Linked DNA regions of Homo sapiens: region 2 is linked to region 1. The links come from fine-mapping of genetic effects on gene expression. A gene starts in region 1. The other region holds a variant in brackets. All regions are shown on one strand. Distances are from middle to middle. Region 1 holds the start of MBTPS1 (membrane bound transcription factor peptidase, site 1). Region 2 overlaps MBTPS1 (membrane bound transcription factor peptidase, site 1).

Region 1 (4,000 bases):
GCCGGGTGTGGTGGCGGGCACCTGCAGTCCCGGCTACTCGGGAGGCTGAGGCAGGAGAATCGCTTGAACCCGGGAGGCAGAAGTTGCAGTGAGCCGAGATCCACCACTGCACTCCAGCCTGGGCGACAGAGCGAGACTCTGTCTCAAAAAAATAAAAATAAATAAAGCGTTTCCTCAAGCAGAATTCCGCAGCACTGATGGCAGCAATGTACAGTTCACCTTAGCCTTCAGTCTTCCAAGTTTTTTTTTGTTTTTTGTTTTTTGAGACATAGTCTCACTCTGTCGCCCAGGCTGGAATGCAGCGGCGTGATCTTGGCTCACTACAACCTCTGCCGCCTGGGTTCAAGGGATTCTCCTGCCTCAGCCTCCCGAGTAGCTGGGATTACAGGCGCCTGCCATTGCGCCCAGCTAATTTTTGTATTTTCAGTAGAGACGGGATTTCACCACGTTGGCCAGGCTGGTCTTGAACACCTGACCTTGTGATCCGCCCGCCTCGGCCTCCCAAATTGTGGGATTACAGGCGTGAGCCACCGCGCCCGGCCCAGCCTTCCTAGTTCTTGTTAACCTCCTGACTAGAAGAGCTCCCACTTCTTCCCTAGGTGCTTCAAAGGTTCCGCAAGCTCTGCATTGGAATTTTCCCTTTTTATATAGAAAGGACCAACTCTTGATTATACGGGGTGCCTGGGGAGTGCAGTCGTTTGACACGTGTCTGGGTCAGGTCCCAGCTCCCATTCTCAATCAACAGTTTTGCTGTCATCCGCATCACACATTAGAGCATAAAATAAACTTTTATTTGTCAAAAGTGTTCTGCATAAATGCTTAAACAAAATGTGGTATAGCCATACAACTGAATATTATTTGGTCATAAAAGGAATGAAATCCTGATTCATGCTACAACATGGATGAACTGTGAAAACATGCTAAGTGAAAGAAGCCTGACACAAAAGGCCGCATATCATATGTTTCCATCTGAATATACGAAATAGTCATTAAAGGCAAATCTAGAAAGACAAAGTAGATGAAAGGTTGCCTGTGGCGGGGCCTGGAAATGGGCATTGACTACAACTGGGCATCAGAGGTCTTGGGGTAACGGAAATGTTCTAAAAGTGGATTTGGTAGTGGCTGTGCTGCTGTAAATTTACTAAAAACCACTGAATAGTACACTTAAAACAGGTGGATTTTATGGTATGTAAATTCTACTTCAATGAAGCTCTTACATTAAAAAATAAGTATAAATAATAAAAGCGGATTCTCCAGATTGAAAAAAAAAAAAATGAGAGGAATTACTTCTCTTCTGCAAGCCCTCCTTTTCGTAGACATACAATTGGAGACCTTGACGTTAGGAGGGCTTACCTACACAGTTCAGACTAAAGGATGAGTCTCCAGAATTCAACGCAGGTCGTATTCCACTCCACGTAATTTCGAAGTGTCAATCAGAATCTAATAACTTAATTTGTGTAGACAAATAGGCCAAGATTCTCAGGGGCTCAACCCAATATGAAAGGTAAACATCTTAATAAAAATACTGACGATCCACAACGGTCTTAGGTAGCGCAACCATGCCAAGGCGAGGCAAGATTTTTAAGAAGCTACAGGTTTAAAAGGCAATCTGGTTCTGAGAGTTCGCCGAACAGAATCCCCGCATTTCCAAAAACCAGCAGCGCAATATGCACAGACCGAGATAAGGCAAAGAATCGACGTCTTTTAAACCTGACGCCAGCACTGCCCCGGAAGCGCACCTAGAATTGAGTCTGTCTGGAGGCTCCGGGCCAGAGCAGGGCGTATTGTTTCACTCGGTGAATGCTCATTTCACGTAAAGAAAACCAGGCAACGGAACAAGCTGCCGGAGCGCGCAGACCCCCGCAGGGCCGCGGTACAGGCACGCTGTGTCCAAACAAGCGCCGGAGGCCCCGCGCCCACCTCCCCCGACCCGGCCCGGCCCCCGCAGCCCTCGCCTCGGGGCCTCGGACGCAACCGGCACACCTGAGCGAGCGGGCCGCCGCCGCTAGGCGGAGCGGGTCGGGGAGGCCGCGCGCGGGCGGCTGACGTACCTGCGCCGCCGGGAGCTCAGGGCCGGCGGGCCCGGGATAACGGCGCCTCCGCGGCGAACACGCCTGGGCACTCCATTCGGGGCTGTTTACTCCCAACTCTCGCGAGACTGGGCGACCGGGCCAGCGAGGCCCACAGCTGGGAGCCTCAGCTCCGCCGACCCAGCGTGCCCTGTCTGTCCCGCGCTCCCGGGGCTTGCGTGCGCGCTCTGGACGCCGTGGGCAGCGGGACCACGCCGGGAGGATGGACGAAGGTCTCGCGACATTTGCGGCGGCGGGGGCCGGTGGCAGGGTGGAAGCGGAGGGGCGTGGCCAGCGAGCTGCCAGGCGGCGAGAACGCGCTGGGGGAACCCTTGGTCCGCTCTGCGCGTCGCTCTAGGATCCCCGAAAAGGAGCACGGGCGCGAAAGCGGCCAGGCTGGGCCAGGATCTAGAAAGACTGCCTGGCGCAGGCTCCCTGCCCCCGCGGGCCTGCTGTCATGGACTCGTGGAGAGCTCGCTTCCCGCGCGGACCCTTCCTGCAGGGGTCCACGTCCAGGCACCGGCGGCTCGGACACCCCACCCCCGGCCGGGCACCTGCCCTGGGTGCCCCTTAACCCGGGCGGTAGCTCGTTAAGATGGCGAAGTGTCCGGTCCGGAACACGCGAAACCCCAAATCCCGCCTGCCCGACCTCCTGACCCCCGGCCCCACGGGACGACAGACTGGGCCTCCCGACGCGCAGCGCGCTGCCGGGACACCGGTGCGTGCGAAACGGAGGACCTTTGTAACGCCACGTGTTTGCTCTTTTTGAAAAAACAAGAATAAATGTGTTAAACTGTCTGAAAAGCTTGCCGCCTAAAAGATGTCTGGGTGACTTAGATGCTAGGATCAGTTTGTTTTCAATGTAAATGGACCAGCCCGGACTCCGTACGGCACTAGCAGGGGACTGAAAGCGTCTTCAGGTACTGCTGGTGGGCGGTGATGCGCTACAGGCCGATCAGACAGTTTTGTGTCTTTTGGAACTTGACACTGCACCACGGTAATGCTGAACTGCACCAATATTACAGATCACAGCGCATCATCTTCCTTCAACATGATTTAACACAGTTGACTTAATATGGTGGATAAATGTAGAATCACAAATTACCATACCCCACCTCAGGCTTCTACTTCGTAATTTTGAGCAGGTTGTTTAACCTCTTTGTACCTCAGCTTCTTCATTACAAAAATAGGGGTACTAGCCAGGCGGGGTGGCTCGCGCCTGTAATCCCAGCACTTGGGGAGGCCGAGGCAGCCGGATCACTTGAGGTCAGAAGTTTCAGACCAGCCTGGTCAACATGGGTGAAACGCCGGCTCTACCAAAAATATAAAAACTTAGCTGAGTGTGGTAGCGCATGACTGTAATCCCAGCAACTCAGGAGGCTGAGGCAGAGAATCGCTTGAACCTGGGAGGCGGAGGTTGCAGTGAGCTGAGATCGTACCACTGCACTCCAGCTTGGGCGACAGAGCGAGACTCTGCCTTAAAAATAAATAAATAATTTTTTTAAAAAATAGGGGTACTAATATCTACCTTAAAGGATGAGGGTTAAATTAAGTACACACATAAGCCCTAGCGCAGTGGCTTATGCCTGTAATCTCAACACTTTGGGAGTCTGTGGCGGGAGGATCACTTGAGCCCAGGAGTTTGAGACTAGTCTGGGCAACAGAGACATGTCTCTATAGTTGTGTTTGGTTTTGTTTTTACCAGGTGTGGTGGTGTGCACCTGCAGTCCCAGCTACTAGGGAGGCTGAGGTGGGAGGACTGCCTGAGCCCAGGAGGTCGAGGCTGCAGTGAGCCATGATTGTGCCACTGCACTCCAGCCTGGGCAACACAGCAAGACCTTGTCTCAAAAACAAACAAAAAGCATACTCATAAAGTGCTCGGCTCCTATATGATTCAATATGTGGTGGTGGATTCTTGAATCCTTTCCTGA
Region 2 (4,000 bases), 59 kb before region 1:
CAAAAGAACTGCCCAGGCTCGGCTGGAAAGGCCTGGTACCAATTGCCTTGGGTAGTGGAGAAGAACCTGCCCTAGGCAGTCTATGTAGCCAGTCAGGATCCCTGGAGAGACAGACAGGATGAGACCACCTAAGGGACACACCCCAGCTCAGTCAAGTCCCTCCCAGGGGGGCAGGGCAGAGAACTGAAGGGGCCTTCTGGGCTGAGGGCTGGGAGCCAGGGCGGCTGCTGCCATTGGCTGGGACCCAAACCAGCAGACAGGCATCCTGTAAGGGACGTTAATAGGTGGCTGGCAGAACTTTCATAAAGAGCGTGCAAGTTACTTTGAACATGTTTAAGTAGATCACCCAGCCGTTGTAAAATAAATTCAAATGTGAAAATCTAGGTAGCATTTTCTAAGGGAAACAACAATCTCTTAATCTGTCAGGCCTGCCCTTGCTCATGCTGGTTTGTGCCACAAAAGAAGCCAAGAGCCAAGGCCACCACAGCTCCCAGGAAGGCAGAGACAGGGAGAGTCTGGCCCGCCTCCTGGGGAGGGAGGGAGACTCCTTTGAACAAAATACAGGATGACTGAGCACAATCACAAAGCAGCCGAGAACTCACCTCCAGGAATGTCCCAGGCGCCGCTCTCTCCAGGGGACAAGGGCCTCACTTGAGGGCGATTCGATCGAAAGTTGGGTAACACCACCTTGTCCAGGTCAATGGAGAGTAGCTTCTGATGTTTCCAAAGGTTACTTCAGGAAAATGGATTAAAACAAAACAAAAATAAGCCATTGTACTAGTCTAGGTACTAGTCTAGGAAGTTCAACTGAAACTCAAGACAGAGCAAGTGATCTACGGGGAGATGTGAAATGCCATTTGCGTCCACGGCCACCTAAATGCCACTGACAGCAACTATGGTGGCCGTTTCCACGTCCCGAGGGAGAAAGATCAAAATCAAGTCCCTGTTCATGAGATTCTACTGAGTTTACAATATGACCAGCAGGAGCCTGTTTTTGCATAAAGCTAAACATGACCAAGCGCCTCGGGAGGACACTCCAAGCGAGGCCCTGGAAGGAGCCTGTCAGGGGGAGGAGCTGAAGCCTGCTGAGTGGACCTGAGCCTGGGGCTATCGAGGTCCTCTCCCTAAGGCCTGGAGCAGTCGGAGGCAATGGTGATTCCAGAACCACTGCATATAAGGAAGTGGGCAAACTGGTGCCGGGAACCAGACAGCATCTTTGTCTCTGAAGAAACCACTGTCTCCAGGGAGAATACGAAACATACAAGGAACCAACAGTGGGAGAGAGTCTGAGCAGCAAAACGTGGGGTCCCCATCTGCCTTGCCTGCAGGCGGGGGACGATCAAATGAACGTGTGCGATTCCTGCACTCTGTGGTGCACAGTATCATTATTAACTCTGGGATCTGAAAAACTCGTTCAGGCCAATACAACTTAGACCCGAAGAAGACAGAGAGGTTGATACGCTGGCAACAGCAGCACAGAGCTTGGGAGGACACCGGAGCTAGAGCGAAGAGCGCGATGGGAAAAACACTACTCTGGCTTAAGTGAGGGGGAAGAATACAGTAAGTTTGCAAATTAAAATTTCTCTATTTTTCTGTTATTTATTCATTTGGAAACTGTCAGCCTGTCTCTTTCACTTTGGGCAAGTGAAAGCAAAGACGTCCAGTCCTATCAGCAATTAGGCTGAAAGTCAACGCCAAGCTGGCGGGCAAGGGCTGGTCTGAGTAGAGGTTCCCTAGGCAGGCAAGAGAGAGACTCCCACTCGATACTCCCAGCTCGGCAACTGCCTGAATGCCAATGAGCACTCATTATAACCCGCCCTATTTTATAGGATTTAATTTTACACTTCAGGCTTAATCAGTCTGAAAGTTAAACTGACAGTGTTAAGTTACGGAATCAATGACATTTAGGCTTTATGACTTTGTAGCTGAATATCTATGGGCTATATTTCCATTCTAACAGTGATATCCTGTTCCAGAATCTCATTCTTTGGTGATGGCACTTTCTAGTGGAGCAGTCATGGTAACAGTCCACACCCATTACCATGTGGGTGCTTTACAGCATACTGACGGAAGGACTGAGGAGCCACCGGAGCAGG[A/G]GTTCCTCTCAGGGAGGACGCTGACACTTCCACAGCTGCCCTAGGTATGGGCACCTGATGCCAACGAAGAAGCCCAAAGCGCCTCTCCACTTCACAGATGGAAGCCTGCCCCCAGCACTGGGCTGACAGCATCTGGAGCTGTCTCCTGGTCTCAAATCTCTTTTGGAGACTCAGAATATGCGTCGATCTAGGTCTCTGGGGACCGAGAATAATTTTCAACAAGATATGAAAAGCAAGATAAATGTAAAACCCAGCAGCGTACTGAGAAGAAGGAATTACTGAGTGATTGTGAAAATCAAATTCCAGGAGCTGTCCATTATCAACATGCTGGATGGGCCGGTTCAGTATGTGATGGATTATTTGATGTGAACAGGTAGATAGCCAAGGATAGAAAGGATATTGTTATCTGCTTCAAGTCCTGAACAACACTGTGGAGAATAATTGGGTTTCTGGAAATTCAGCTAACACTGTTCACTGAGTATGAATTGCTGACCATGGCTGGAATATAAATGCTGGTTTGAATGCTAGGCTAATAGAAGGTTATAAATAAATAAGATGCAAAAATGGAAACTTATCAGAAATGTTTAAATGATGAGATGTGAACTGGAATGGAAAAGTACCCAGTGATTAAGGTTCAGGAAGAAAGCTACTGATGAGACAATGTGATGATTCTACCATTTTCCTGTGTTCTATTAAGCATATTCGAAATGAAGACATACGGTCAGTGCGTGGTGTGTTCAGCACTTTCGGTTTATGATGAGGAGTAAAGGCGGAAGGCAGCCTCGCCACCTTCACACGGGCACTCTCCTCTTCGCCTTACAGGACGGAAGGTGGCCTCCGTCCCTGGCCCCATACCATCACTGGAGGAAAAGAAGGCAGGCAGGGGGCCTGTCAAGAGGGTAGCCTCCTGCCTGAGGGGCTGGGGAGAGGGGCCGGGTACCAGGCGGCCAGGGGGCCTCGGAGGGCAAGACTCCTGCTTGATGGGGTGGGAGGTGTGCCTGCCCGGCCACGGACACAGCTCTGACAGCTGTCCCTGGCTTCATCCCCTTTCTCAGGAGAAGCTCCCCCTTTCTTCTTATATTGTCCTGTTTGGGCCAGGGACGTCACAGAAAAAGTAAGGGGGTGGCATCTGGAGAAAAAGGGGACCAGCCATGCCGAGCTGGTCCTAGCCACAGAGGGAAACAGCAGGTCCACCTCAAACACTGGGTACGGAAAGGAAACGATGCAAATGAAGAAGCCGAGTTAGTGAGCTGGAGAAGGGATCCAGGCGGCACTGCAAACAGGAGTGTGGAGACAGCAGCAGAGGTCACAGCCTGCCATCGGAGGCGGGTGCTTTCACCCCCAGTCACAGTCAGCACAGGACGTAATGACACAGAAGCATGCTCTTCTTGGACAGGCTGCAACCGCGGCCCCCGGGGATGACAGAAGAAGGGAACTATCTGTATCTTATCATCAATGTCTGAAACAGGGAACACACTGCAGCCGGCAGCTCTTAACTCCCCAACCACAGGACTTAGAGCTCCAGCTCCCATGAAATCACTCTGTTGGATCCCAGCTTTTTAAAAAAGAATTAACCAAATGTAACAAAATGCTAATTATCCAAAGCACTTTTTATGCAGGATACCACCAAAGAGCCTATTTCCAAAGGCCAATACGAGGTTCACTAAATAACTGTCGCAAATGACAAGCTTGAAGATCTGACAATTCGATAGTGATGTCAGTAAAATTCCATTCTCTCCTATAAGAAAAGCAATGACTCACAAGCCCCGTGGAAAGAGTGGAAGGGCACAGGCGGACACTAACCTGGGCGCCGTCTCGTTTAAAGGCTGTGGCTTGGCCCAAGACAAGCGTGGACAGGCTGGTAGAGGCCGAGGTTTTGGGTCTCCCAAATGGGCCTCCAGAAC

The links.
Region 2: its variant is fine-mapped to the expression of MBTPS1 in tibial nerve (GTEx, PIP above 0.99).

Annotation. Positions count from the first base shown.
Region 1 is chr16:84,114,684-84,118,683 of GRCh38, forward strand. MBTPS1 (membrane bound transcription factor peptidase, site 1) reads right to left here and starts at 2,259. Exons shown (of 23, transcript NM_003791.4): 1 at 2,052-2,259. It overlaps MBTPS1-DT (MBTPS1 divergent transcript), which reads left to right and starts at 2,360. Exons shown (of 1, transcript NR_186375.1): 1 at 2,360-4,000. RefSeq lists silencers at 1,750-2,179, 2,580-2,679 and an enhancer at 2,830-2,989.
Region 2 is chr16:84,055,403-84,059,402 of GRCh38, forward strand. MBTPS1 (membrane bound transcription factor peptidase, site 1) reads right to left here. Exons shown (of 23, transcript NM_003791.4): 21 at 3,900-4,000; 22 at 603-733. Among named protein-coding and RNA genes, the nearest start is that of SLC38A8, 15 kb to the left of the region's middle. RefSeq lists enhancers at 1-431, 432-1,024. The variant A/G (reference allele first, on the strand shown) is at 2,097.